Linked DNA regions of Homo sapiens. The protein of the gene in region 1 purifies or fractionates together with the protein of each later gene. This does not show direct contact. Each region holds a gene or a part of one and is shown in the gene's direction. Other genes may lie near its edges.

The links.
Region 2: the proteins of ABTB1 (region 1) and CARS1 purify together in Homo sapiens (affinity purification with mass spectrometry; 2 studies listed by BioGRID and IntAct, with this or other methods). This does not show direct contact.

What each region holds. Positions count from the first base shown.
Region 1 is NC_000003.12:127,675,948-127,681,449, forward strand, and holds the end of ABTB1 (ankyrin repeat and BTB/POZ domain-containing protein 1), read left to right. Parts: intron 1-22; coding exon 23-167; intron 168-324; coding exon 325-484; intron 485-588; coding exon 589-634; intron 635-1,019; coding exon 1,020-1,136; intron 1,137-1,220; coding exon 1,221-1,339; intron 1,340-1,517; coding exon 1,518-1,616; intron 1,617-1,728; coding exon 1,729-1,896; intron 1,897-4,037; coding exon 4,038-4,238; intron 4,239-4,321; coding exon 4,322-4,528; 3' UTR 4,529-4,979; downstream 4,980-5,502. UniProt on the Homo sapiens protein: May act as a mediator of the PTEN growth-suppressive signaling pathway. May play a role in developmental processes.
Region 2 is NC_000011.10:3,054,403-3,061,902, reverse strand, and holds the start of CARS1 (cysteine--tRNA ligase, cytoplasmic), read left to right. Parts: upstream 1-4,479; 5' UTR 4,480-4,535; coding exon 4,536-4,560; intron 4,561-6,863; exon of another isoform or gene 6,864-6,962; coding exon of another isoform or gene 6,963-7,026; intron 7,027-7,500. UniProt on the Homo sapiens protein: Catalyzes the ATP-dependent ligation of cysteine to tRNA(Cys).

The sequences.
Region 1 (5,502 bases):
TGGTGAGCCCTGCCTCCCCCAGGAGCCCGCTGCGAGGCCAACACCTTCGATGGTGAGCGCTGCCTCTATGGGGCACTGAGTGACCCCATCCGCCGGGCTCTACGCGATTACAAGCAGGTCACGGCTTCCTGCAGGAGGCGGGATTACTATGACGACTTCTTGCAGCGGTGAGCCAGGGCACACGAGGGGTGCAGCATGGGGTGCGGTGGCCCTGGTGGGTGTGGCGAGTCTGCTCTGACTGTGGCCTGCACTGGGTTCTGAGTGCTCCGAGGAATGGGGTGGGGCTGTGCCAAGTATCCTCCCTCCTGGCTTGTCCCTCCCCAGGCTTCTAGAGCAGGGCATCCACAGTGACGTGGTCTTTGTAGTACACGGGAAGCCATTCCGGGTGCATCGCTGCGTCCTGGGTGCACGTAGTGCCTACTTTGCCAACATGCTGGACACCAAATGGAAGGGCAAGAGTGTCGTGGTTCTCAGGCACCCACTGGTATGTCCCTTCAGGGTGGCAGAGGGGCATGAACTGTCCAGGAACAGCAGGAGGTTGTGCTGGGTGGCTGCCTCTGACATTACTTTCTGGTTTTCTGCCCACAGATCAACCCCGTGGCCTTTGGGGCCCTGCTGCAGTACCTGTACACAGGTGACCCCCTGGGTCCAGGGTAGGAGGAGAGGGAGTGGGCCGTCCTTCTGGACAGCAGTACACCTAGGTGTGGCTGGGCTGACCTTTCACCTCTAGACACTTCATGGTCCCCCCGGGGTGGTTCCAGCTGCCTCTCGGGTTGGGTTGCAAGAGAGAGGACTAGTGTGCCTGCTCAGGAAGAGCTTGTCCCACCCACATGCTGAGGCCCTCCCATCTGTTCCCTGGGGCCTGTAGAACAGCTTTTGATGGGGAAACCATGGTGGCAAGTGGGCCCAGGAGTCCTAGTCCTGCAGCCAGGTGGCCAGGTGGGAGGGGATCACCCTTTTTCTGTGGGCCTGATGACAGCTGAGGTCCCGCAGGCCCTCATCCTCCCCACTGCCCCCAGGCCGCCTGGACATTGGCGTAGAGCATGTGAGTGACTGTGAGCGCCTGGCCAAGCAATGCCAGCTGTGGGACCTGCTCAGCGACCTGGAGGCCAAGTGCGAGAAGGTGTCTGAGTTTGGTGCGAGCAGGGTTTGGGGCCCGGGGCCATGGGTGCGGCCTGGCAGGGCTGGCCTGGCTCCCTGAAGTTGTTCTTCCCCTGTAGTGGCGTCTAAGCCAGGCACGTGTGTGAAGGTGCTGACCATCGAGCCCCCACCTGCAGACCCCCGCCTCCGGGAGGACATGGCGCTGCTGGCCGATTGTGCCCTGCCCCCCGAGCTCCGAGTAAGTGCGGGGCTGGTGGGCAGGAAGGGCGTTTTGGGATGGCAGGCCGTGACAGGCAGCCCAGATACTTGGGCTCAATTCCTTGTGTGGTCCTGGACCAGTTACTTCCCTTTTCTGAACCTAGTCGTTCACTTCTGTGAACAACTGCTCTGATGGGGTCACCTCTTCTGTACCCCAGGGTGATCTTTGGGAGCTGCCCTTCCCTTGTCCTGACGGCTTCAACAGCTGCCCTGACATCTGCTTCCGAGTGGCTGGCTGCAGCTTCCTCTGCCACAAGGTGCCTGTGCCCTCCTGTTGCCCCTGGCCCCAGCCCGTTGCCCTGAGCCCCCGTCTAGCTCCTCAGGAGACAGACCCTGGCCCTCACACTTCCTGAGCCCGGCCTCCCCCAGGCCTTTTTCTGTGGCCGCAGTGACTACTTCCGAGCCCTGCTGGATGACCACTTCCGAGAGAGCGAGGAGCCAGCGACCTCAGGGGGCCCCCCAGCCGTCACCCTGCATGGCATCTCACCCGACGTCTTCACTCACGTGCTCTACTACATGTACAGCGACCACACTGAGGTGGGGGCTCAGGCAGAGCTGGGGATGGCACACAACCTGTGCTGCCGTGGGCTGAGAGGGAGCGCCAGGGCCCTGGGGGTCTGTGGAAGGGCCCAGCTGGCCCCATGGTTGACGTTTTGAGAAGGCTGGAGGGGAAGGCTGTGGGACTTTGGATTTTTCTTTCAGGTAGAGGAAGCCTTGTTGGGCTCCAGAGAGAGGATGAGTGATGAGCCTGTGTCACAGACACTCCACACTTGTCAGCCACTTGGGATCCTCAGCTTCTCTAGCAGGAGGGTGGAGGGTGGGTGGGGACAGCCTCCTCTCTGTGGTGCTGCAGATCCCTGGGGTTCTGGGTTCCCAGTCTCCTCTTCCCTTGCTGCCTGCCTCTGTCTCCAGCTGCCCCAAGGTGTCCGTAAGCCAAGGCTGCAGGGCAGCAGCAGAGTGCTGAAGGTTTGCTCTGCCAGGGTGTGTGAGAGAGAGAGAGAGTGTGTGTGTGCGTGCGCGTGCGCGCGCACTATAAAGCAATCCCCATATCTGGTGGCTTAAAGAAGAGGGGAGTTTGTTTCTCCTTCACTTCTGACTGAGGTGGGTGCCCCAGGGCAAGTGGCTTGCGGAAGATCAGGTCATCCCTCCATCTTGCCCCTGTATGCCTAAGGGTGAAGGTCAAAAACCTTTTCTCTGAAGGTGAGTGTTTCAGGTTCTGTGGGCCATATGGCCCTGTTGTAGCTACTCAACTCTGTAGCGCAAAGGTAGCCAGAGACAGTACAGAGATGAGTGGGTGAGGCTGCATTCCAATAAAACTTTACTTGCACAAACAGGCTGGATTTGGTCCACAGGCCGTAGCTTACCCATCCTGCCTGGGGCATCGCGTTTGGCCATGGAGATTGGGTCCTAGGCAAACTCATGCTCTAGGAGGAAGAGGAAGGCAGGGCAAGCAATGCTGTTTTTGTAGAAGCCACCGGAAATTGCACCACTTCTCATGTTCCCCTGGAGAGAACTTCGTGCCTACCTGCCAACAAGGGAGGCTTGGAAAGTCATTCTGTGGCCAGGGCCCTGTTTTGTGGGGGAAGGGGAGGAAGCATGCTGGGAGACAGAGGGCAGTCCCTACTGCTGCTCTATCTCCAGTGGCAGCTCCCTTGTCCATCCCTCCGCGCGGCCTGACAGCCCCTCAGCCTCCATCTTTCCCACCCCCTCTACTGGGCATCTCCTGCAGCTCAGCCCAGCTCTCTGGCCCCTGTAGCAGGGGTTACCTTTGCCCACCCTGGAGAAGCTCCCTCTTCAAGGAGCCTCGCCACCCAAAGGGCACCTTGTCTCAGAGTGTGGCTTGGGCTCTTAACCTGGGTTGATACTGGTTGAGCTGTGTGACACTGGGTGAGCTTTGTGATCTTGGGCCAGTTACTTAACTGCTCTGTGCCTCTAGAACATGGGGATAGCTCTCGTCGTCACTTCCTAAGGCCTTGTGCAGATGCATGGGTTACCCAGGTAAAGGAGGTGGCATGGCACATGGCACATGGCTTGTAATGTGGTCGCAGAGCTCCCCTTGTCTCTGTCTGCAGCTTGCTCCCTGTGCCACCCAGGCTCTGGCCTGAATCTGAGGGCTTCAGTCTTATCCAGCACAGGATGTATCTGTAGGTGGGCTCTGTGTCCCCACAGCCTCTTGAGAGGGAGGGAGCTGGTAGATAGTCTCCCACCCCTGGCAGAGTCCCTGCATAGGTCTTGACTAGCTGCCTCTGTCCCACCATTCTGACAGCCCCCGCAGGTAGGCATGGTTATCTATACCTCATGGACTGGGAACTAGAGGCACAGGGAGGTGCAGTGACTTGCCCAGGGCCCCACAGCTAGAAGTGTCAGACCCAGGTCTGTATAACTCGGAGCTCAGACCCTGGCTCCTGCGAGGGCCCTGCCTCCCGCCTGCCCTGCCAGCCTGCTCAGGGCATGGGAGAACCCCCCAGTCTTCTGCCCCCTAGCGGTCCTGCAGATCCCTGTGGGAATCTGGGCCAGCCCCCCGACCCCCAACCCCATACATGCGCAGGGAGCTCCTACTCCCACTGGAAGCCTTCCCGCCAGTGCCCCCCAACCACCACAGGCCCTAGCCTTGGCTGTTGTGCCCTGGGAGCCCTTGGTGACCTCGGGGGGCACCTTCATCCCTGTCTTCACTGCAGCTGTCCCCCGAGGCAGCCTATGATGTGCTGAGCGTCGCCGACATGTACCTGCTGCCAGGCCTGAAGAGGCTGTGCGGCCGCAGCCTGGCTCAGATGCTAGACGAGGACACTGTGGTGGGTGTGTGGCGCGTGGCCAAGCTCTTCCGCCTGGCGCGGCTTGAGGACCAGTGCACTGAGTACATGGCCAAGGTCATTGAGAAGGTGGGCCAGTGGTCTGCAGTGGGTGGGAAGGAGGGGTGAGAGGGCAGGCACCCCTCCACTGAGCTGGCCCTTCCCGCTCATAGCTGGTGGAGCGGGAGGACTTCGTGGAGGCGGTGAAGGAGGAGGCAGCGGCTGTGGCAGCCCGGCAGGAGACGGACTCTATCCCGCTGGTGGACGACATCCGCTTCCACGTGGCCAGCACGGTGCAGACCTACAGCGCCATAGAGGAGGCGCAGCAGCGTCTGCGGGCACTCGAGGACCTGCTCGTGTCCATCGGTCTGGACTGTTGAGCCCCTGGCTGGGCAGCCCCAGGGGCCAGGAGCTCTCTTGGAGACAAGCATGTGTATGCGTTTGTGTGCAGCTCTTCTTCCTGCTCCCTGCACATTGAGGGCTTCATGGGGGGTGCGAGGGGCTCAGTGGGGCTTCTCTTCCCTCCATGAGCCTGGAGACCCCAGGGGAGGATCCATTTGGGATGAGCCCCCTCCCCCCAATGCACAAGCCAGCCCCCAAGACCCTGGGGGTGGACACCACTCAGGGAAACCTGGGGTGGGGGTGGGCTTTGGTCTTAGCACTTTCCTTCTCCAGATCCCCCCTACCCACCCCAGTCCCAAATCCAGTCCTCTGGCCCTTGCCTAGCCCTGAATTGCTTCTCTAAGCTGGTGTTCCCATGCACAGGGCCATTCAGGAAGGGCTGGGGGAGTGTGTGTGGCAATAAAGCTTGAAGGCACCGTGGGAGCATGAGCCTGTGTCCTGGGGTACAGCTTGGGAAGGGTGGGGCCTTCTGGAGCCAGTGGAGCTGGTGTGACCAAGGAAAGAAGCTCTAGAGTTGGGGGCTCCCAGCAGAGGCTGGCCCAGAGCCCAAGGGCCAGGGTACCTGGCTGAGCAGACCTAGAGATCTGCCACTGACCCCAGTGTGGCCTGGGCCCATCCTGGCTCCCTGCCTCCCTGTCTCCATGGATGCTGGTTGTGGTGGGCCTCATTCTAGGAGAGGGCCAGGACCAAAATGACCATTTTCTGTCAGCCCAGTGCCAGTCTTTTCCCCAGGGAGGACCTTGTGGCCCTTCCTGCAGGGGCTGCTACCTTATTATGGGAAGGTAAGCTGCAGGGGCCAAGGGAGACCTTTCTCCTTGGCCCTCTGAAGGTTCACTGAAAAATTAACTTGCAAAAGGCAGAGTAACAGGAGAAAAGACACGCAAATTTATTTAGCATGTAGACATGGGCGTCTTCAGAATGAAGACCCAAAGATGGGAAGCTGTCCATTGTT
Region 2 (7,500 bases), on another chromosome or scaffold:
GAGGAGTTCGAGACCAGCCTGGCCAACATGGTGAAACCCCGTCTCTACTACAAATATAAAAATTATTACGTGGCTGGGTGTGGTGGTGCACGTCTGTAGTCCCAGCTACTCGGGAGGCTGAGGCAGGAGGATCACTTATACCCAGGAGGCAGAGGTCGCAGTGAGCTGAGATTGCACCACTGCACTCCAGCCTGGGTGAGGGAGCGAGACTCTGTCTCAAAAATAATAATAATAATTTTTAAAAACAAATAGGAATTTACATGCCTACCATATACCCACAACAGTTAAACATTAAAAACAAAAACAGAAACAATAGGGATTGATTCTTTCACAGCTCCAGAGGCCAGAAGTTCCAAACCAAGGCGTCCGCAGGGTGGGTTCCTTCAGAGGCTCTCCAGGAGGTCCTTCCTTGCCTCTCTCCTGGCTTCTGGTGGCCACCGGCCATCCTTGGCTTGTGCTACATCACTCCAATTGCTTCCCCCTTCACACCTATCTCTGTATCTCTGAATCTCTCTCTCATAAAGACACTAGGCATTGGATTAGGACCCATTCTAATCCAGGATGACCTCATTTTAACTTGATTATATCTGCAAGGACGCCTTTTTCAAATAAAGCCAGCCAGGTCCAGTGGCTCACGCCTGTAATCCTCTCACTTTGGGAGGCCAGGGCGGGAGGATCACTTGAGCCCTGGAGTTCAAGACCAGCCTGGGCAACATAATGAAACCCCATCTCTACAAAAAATATAAAAAATTAGCCACGTATGGTGGTGCACATCTGTGGTCCCAGCTACTCAGGAGGCTGAGGTGGGAGGATCACTTGAGCCCACGAGGTTGAGGCAGCAGTGAGCTGTGATTGCACCACTGCACTCCAGCCAGGGTGACAGAGCGAGACCCTGCTTTAAAAAAAAATAAAATAATAAATGAATAAAAATCAAGTCACAGTCGCAGGTACCAGGGGTTAGAACATGGGCATAATCATTTTGGGGGGACCACAGCTCAACCCACAACAGGCTTGTCTTGGGACCCCCCCGGGAGTTGGCAGCAGAGCTGGGAGCTCACCTGAGTGTATTCGTCTCTAACGCTGCGCTACCCTGGCTTGCAGGCCATGTGACATTTCTTTCCCTAAAAGTGGTTTGGGTAGGGCCTGAGCTGCTGGCTGTGCCAGCAAAGAAATCACTCTGCTTTAGTCACCTCAAAGCAGTGGGCCCAGCGACACCCTGCTGCCCATGGACACTGAGGGGGACTGTCCATCCTCTGGCATGGAAAGAGCAGCGTTCTTGGAGAACTTGGCCTTGGCCCTTAGGAGACTCAAGGGAGAGCCCTGCACGGTGGCCACTGGTGGCCGAGGAAAGTCCAGCTGCCCGGGGAAGGTGCTGTTCACTCACCTGCTGCCCATGGCCCAGGGCCAGACCAAGGCATCAGCCCCTCAGCCATCCAGAACAGGCCAGTGAAGCTTCCAGGATGGGTCTGCACTTGCGGAATATTTAGTAGGCAGGGTTCTGTGTGATGTCCTTACCCTACGTGCTCTTGTGAAATCCTCATTATCAGTTTGCTGGGGCTGCCAGGCTTGGGGGCTTCAACAAGGATTTATTGTCTCACAGTTCTGGAGGCTGGAAGTCTCAGGTCAGGGCATCAGCAGGGTGGGCTCCTTCTGGGGCTGTGAGGGAGAATCTGTCCCAGGCTGTCCCCTGACTTCTGGTGATTTGCTGACAATGTTTGGTGCCCTTTGGCTTGTGAAGCATCGCCCCAGTTTCTGCCTTTATCTTAACATGGCACCCTCCCTGCTTGTCAGTGTCCAAATTTCCTCCACTTAAACATTTTAATTAATTGGCTGGGCATGGTGGCTCACGCCTGTAATCCCAGCACTTTGGGAGGCCGAGGCGGGCGGATCATCTGAGGTCGGGAATTCGAGACCAGCCTGGCCAACATGGAGAAACCCGTCTCTACTAAAAATACAAAATTAGCCGGGCATGGTGGCACATGCCTGTAATCCCACCTATTCGGGAGGCTGAGGCAGGAGAATCTCTTGAACCTGGGACACTGAGGTTGCGGTGAGCCAAGATGGCACCATTGCATTCTAGCCTGGGCAACAAGAGTGAAACTCCGTCTCAAAAAATTTTTTTAAATTAATTTATATATGTGTATTTATTTATTCATTTATTTATTTTAGAGACAGGGTCTCACTCTGCACCCAGGCTGGCATGCAGTGGCACAATCATAGCTCACTGCAACCTGAAACTCTGGGGCTCAAGCCATCCTCCCTCTTCAGCCTCCCAGAGAGCTGGGATTACAGGTGTGAGCCACCATGCCCAGCTGAAATTTTCCCTTTTTACAAGGATATCAGTTATACTGGATTAACGTCCCCCCTAATGACCTCATCTTATGACTTTATCATCTGCAAAGACCCTATTTCCAAATAAGGTCACATTCACAGGTCCTGGTGGTTATAGGATTTCCACATCTTTTGGGAGAGACACAATGCAACCCATAACAACCTGTAACCCAATGTGCTGTCCCAAAGAACTACAACACCAGGGGGATGCTGAGGTTCAGAGAGTGTCCTTGCCCTGGTGGTAGGGCTGGGACGCAGCAGGACTGGGGAGGCGGGACCCACTGCTGCTAGACACTGCAGCACTCTTAGACACAGCTCGGCCACCTGAGCAGGTGATCATTTCCCAGTTCCGCTCTGCAGACCCTTTTTTTTTTTCCCAGTAGAGATGAAGTTTCACTATGTTGGCCAGGCTGGTTTTGCACTCCTGACCTCAAATGACCTGGCCGCCTTGGTCTCCCAAAGTGCTGGGATTACAGGCGTGAGCCACAGTGCCCGGCCCCACTTTGCAGATTTAAAAACAAGACATCTGGAAGCTCAGAGAAGTTAAACTCACCCCAGGTCTTACAGCCAAACTCTGGCTTGCCTGACCTGATGTCAGGAGGCTTTCTTAGTGCAAGAAAGGAAGGGCAGGGCAAGCCTTAGCCGAATGTTTATCTCTAAGAGGCTTCTGACTCTCCTGGGCGCCTCCGGTTCCTTCTCCCAGGAAGGCATGTGGCCGAGCTGGGCTTGGGTGACTCATGGTCCTAGAGTGATGAGTGAGAAACAGGCACTGTGAGAGTCATGGTAGGACCTGGCCAGAACTTCGTCCCCTAAGTCCTGGACTTGGTCCCTCCTTTGGGATTAGTTGGGGTCTCACAGAGCCTCCCACATCCTGGGCAAGTTACAGCACATGCTACAGGATCTTTGCAGAAATGTAAACAAACTCTTTCTTCTTTTTTTTTTCCAGCCACCAGTAGAATTTAGAATTTATTTATTTATTATTTTATTTATTTATTTATTTATTTATTTATTTGAGACGGAGTCTCACTCTGTTGCCAGGCTGGAGTGCAATGGCGCAATCTCGGCTCATTGCAACCTCCACCTCCCTGGTTCAAGCGATTCTCCTGCCTCAGCCTCCTGAGTAGCTGGGACTACAGGCAAGCGCCACCATGTCCAGCTAATTTTTGCATTTTTAGCAGAGACAGGGTTTCACCATGTTGGCCAGGATGGTCTCGATCTCTTGCCCTCATAATCCGCCCACCTCGGCCTCCCAAAGTGCTGGGATTACAGGTGTGAGCCACCGTGCCCGGCCTTAGAATTTATTATGAAATTAGACATGAGGTTCCAAAAAGTAACTAGAAGATTTTTTACTTTTTATTTTTTGAGAAAGGGTCTCACTCTGTCGCCTAGGCTGGAATGCAGTGGCACAGTCGTAGCTCACTGCAGCTTCAAACTCCTGGACTCAAATGATCCTCCTGCCTTGTCCTTTCAAGGTGCTGGGATTACAGGCATGAGCCACTAATCCTGGCTAATAATTTTTCTTGACATATTAAAATTCTGTTTCTTAAATAGCATTTCCTCTCATTTTGGATGGGTGCACGAACCTTGGGTGGGATATCCTTGGGAGGTGACATCATGCACACAGAAGGCAGGAGCCCTAAGGGGGTTGGGGATGGCTCCAGAATGGGGTCTGAGAAGGAGATGGAGAAGCCTGTTCACGCAACACTTCATAGTGGCTTGCTTTCCGCAGGGTCATTGGCAGGGCGGTCCCTAGGCCTGGAGCGCTCTTCCCGCCCATCCCCAGGCCCTGCTCCAGGTCGGCCTCCTGGGAACCATCCCGTCTCGCCAGCACACCCTGTCCCGAGGCCGCCTCTGACCTCCAGGCTGGGCCTGGTCCCCACGGCGCTTAGCGCAATCATGACTTAAACACCTATTACAGGACGCTCAGTCTTTAGTGCTTGTCTCCCCGCGGCTGGGCTGACTACTCCCAGCACGGCCACTGAACGCTTGGCCGCGCGATGCTCCGGAGCGCGGGTCGCCATTGGGTTGAACTACAGCTCCCAGCATGCTCCGGGCCGGCGACATCCGGAGCCCCTGGTAGTTGCCTAGCGACCGGGCGTGTCCCGGAAGACGGGCCCGGCGTGGGGCGCGACTTCCGGGGCGGCGGTTGCATCAGATTCTAGGAAGTGTCTGTAGCCGCAGCTGCGGGTCCGGGATTCCCAGCCATGGCAGATTCCTCCGGGCAGCAGGGTGAGCGGCGCGGCCGGGCCAGGCTGAGGGCGGCTGGGGGCCTGACTGGGCGCTGGGTGCTCGGCTCGAAGGGCAGCGAGTCCTTATGTCTGAGGGGCCCGGGTGCATGGGTTCTGAGGGGCAGCTGTGTCCGTGGTCTGAGGGGCGGCAGTGCCCGAGGTCTGAGGGGTGTCAGTGCGCGGGGTCTGAGGGACGGCACGTCCTTGGGTCCGAGGGGCGGGGGTGCTCGGGGTCTGAGGGGTGTCAGTGCCCGGGGTCTGAGGGACGGCGGGTCCTGAGGTTCGAGGGGTGGCACGTCCTAGGATCCGAAGGACAACGGGTGCCCGGCTCCGAGGGACGGCCACTGGGACCCCTGGGACTCCTGCGTGAGGGTCTGCCAGACCCGTGGCTGGAGCACAGACCCCGCGGGGACCCGAGCCCGAGCGGGGCGCTGCCCAGACCACCCAGCCTCAGTTTCCTCACTTGGTTCCTGCCGAGGTCCCCTTGCATCCTCACCCCGGGAGGTGGCCCTACATCAAACAGCCTTTCCCCAGCCGGTGCCTGGGCGGGCCCTCGCTCCCTCTTGCCCCAGCTGGCCTTTAGGGGGGAGACAAAGGCCCAAGGGTTGTTTTGGTTTTCTGCCCAGACCTGGCAGCTTCCGGGAGGTGGGCGGAGGGCACCTGAGGTTGGTATTTAGGGAAATGGGGCAGAGGACGCCAGGGGTACGCGTACACACAGTAAAAGGGCTTGGGGCTTTACGAAGGCTTTCATCTCCAGTTCCGCAGGCAGTCCACTGCAAGCTGATTGTCAGAGCATTACTGCCCCATTTTATTGCCAACCCGGGAGGTTCCCCAGGGACACAGCTGTGTCAGCTCCCCCAGTCACTCATGTCACCAGCGGGTAGACCTTGAGAGACCAGTGGGTTCTTCTCTCACTGTCCCTCCAGCAAGATTTTAGGTGCTGGAAAGGCAAGAGACTGAATCAGAAAGCCCAGATTCCTAACAGTCTGGAGCAGCCTTTCCAAAGGAAACATTCTCAGTATCTAGTTTTTAATTCTTTTGGCTGGCAAAAATTAGATGCAAGTTCTTGTAAGACACCTCCAGCCCCCACCCTCAGTTTAGATCGTACCAAGATTTCCTTAGCATCTGGTGGTGCCCTTTGCCCCTGAGGGTTTATTGGGTTATAGATAGGTAGTTATGACAACCCGAGTAATCTGGCGGCATGGGGACACCCAGATGACAGGGCTACACTCTTGTGCCAAGTGGCAGGAGGTGGTCACCTTCCAGGCACGCCGCCTACCACCCTACCTGTGTGCCTGGATTCCAGCACCATCTCCACCCGTCCCAGAGCCAAGCGGCCCTCAGAAGTCACCCAGATTCCTGTAAAACAGCATCATAGTTAACAGCCCCAACTCTGGAACCACCCTGGAAGGGCCAGGGTTCCAACTCTGCCTCCCGCCCCACAGCAAACCATGCGTAATGGCTCCTACCTTGGAGCATGGAGTGTAAATGAATTAATAGATGGGAAGGACGTAGAACAGTGCCTGGCACTCAATTAAGTGCTGTGTCTGTGCTGAAAGTTAGGGCCTGTTTGTTTTCAAACTAAAAATGTGTTTTTGTTCATTTGTGAACGTAAATGACGTATTAGTAGTGTTTTGTATCTTGTTTTTAAAAATAGCTTTAGAATTTTAGGTTTTCAGAGCCTTGTAAGAATTGCCTTCTTTTTGGAGCTTGCCATATAGGTTGGGATTGCCCTCTCCGGGCTGTCAGGGCAGCAGGCAGATTGCCCAGTCCTCAGCCTGCGCACAGCATCTCCAGCCAGTGTTCTTCTGCCCCAGGGCATGGCCCACCTGCCTTTACTATCGCCTCCTCCCATCACACACACACTCTCAAAGATGAGAACAGGAAATAAAATCCAATCGTAGGCCAGGCGCAGTGGCTCACACCTGTAATCCCAGCACTTTGGGAGGCCGAGGCAGGCAGATCACGAGGTCAGGAGATCGAGACCATGGTGAAACCCTGTCTCTACTAAAAATAAAAAAAAAATTAGCCGGGCGCGGTGGCGGGCGCCTGACTACTCGGAGGCTGAGGCCGGAGAATGATGTGAACCCAGGAGGCGGAGCTTGCAGTGAGTCGAGATTGCGCCACTGCACTCCAGCCTGGGCGACAGAGCGAGACTCCGTCTCAAAAAAAAAAAAATCCAATCGTAAATGCTTTCAGTGACCATCTTCCCAGATTTTTCAAGGAGGCCATCATTTTTGTACCATCTTCCCTAAGTTGACTCAGAAGGTCTATTTCTCTTTCCTGATCTCACTGGGTGTACAGCTTTTCCTTTGCGGTCTTGAAGGTGCATAGGCTTGGTGCCTGTCCAAGAGCCTGATTATTTCAGAAGGATGAGTTTCATTTCTGAGGTTTCTGGGGTAGATGGAGCCTACCTCAGGGCCTTTCCGCACAGACTTGGGATACCACTTGGTCGGCTGCTCATCAGGTCAGACTTATAGTTTAATTTTTATACAGTTTAATTCAAGGGTCTTCATAATAACACAGCCAGCATTTTTTCAGCATGAGTCTGTGCCAGGCACTGCTCTAAATGCTTTGCATCTGTTATCTCCTGCCACCCTTGGGGGAACCCCTTTGAGGAAGATCCTGCCGGCATCTTGTACAGATGAGAATCCTGAGGTTCAGAGAAGTCAAGCAATCTGTCCACCATCACGACTAGCCAGAGGCACAGCCAGGCTCCCAACCTGGGCAGCCTGACTCAATAGGGACCTTAACTGCTGTGCTGTGCTGCCTTTGATGATTCTCTTCAGACTCACAATAGCTCAACCCAGTGAGTTAAGGCAGACGAGAATAAAGCTGATGCCCTTCGATGTTTTCCCCAGAGCCACATGAAATGTTTGCTCCTCTATGAACTCAGGTACCATGTTTCCGGGTATTTGAAGAGCCTTAGGCAGTACCCTTG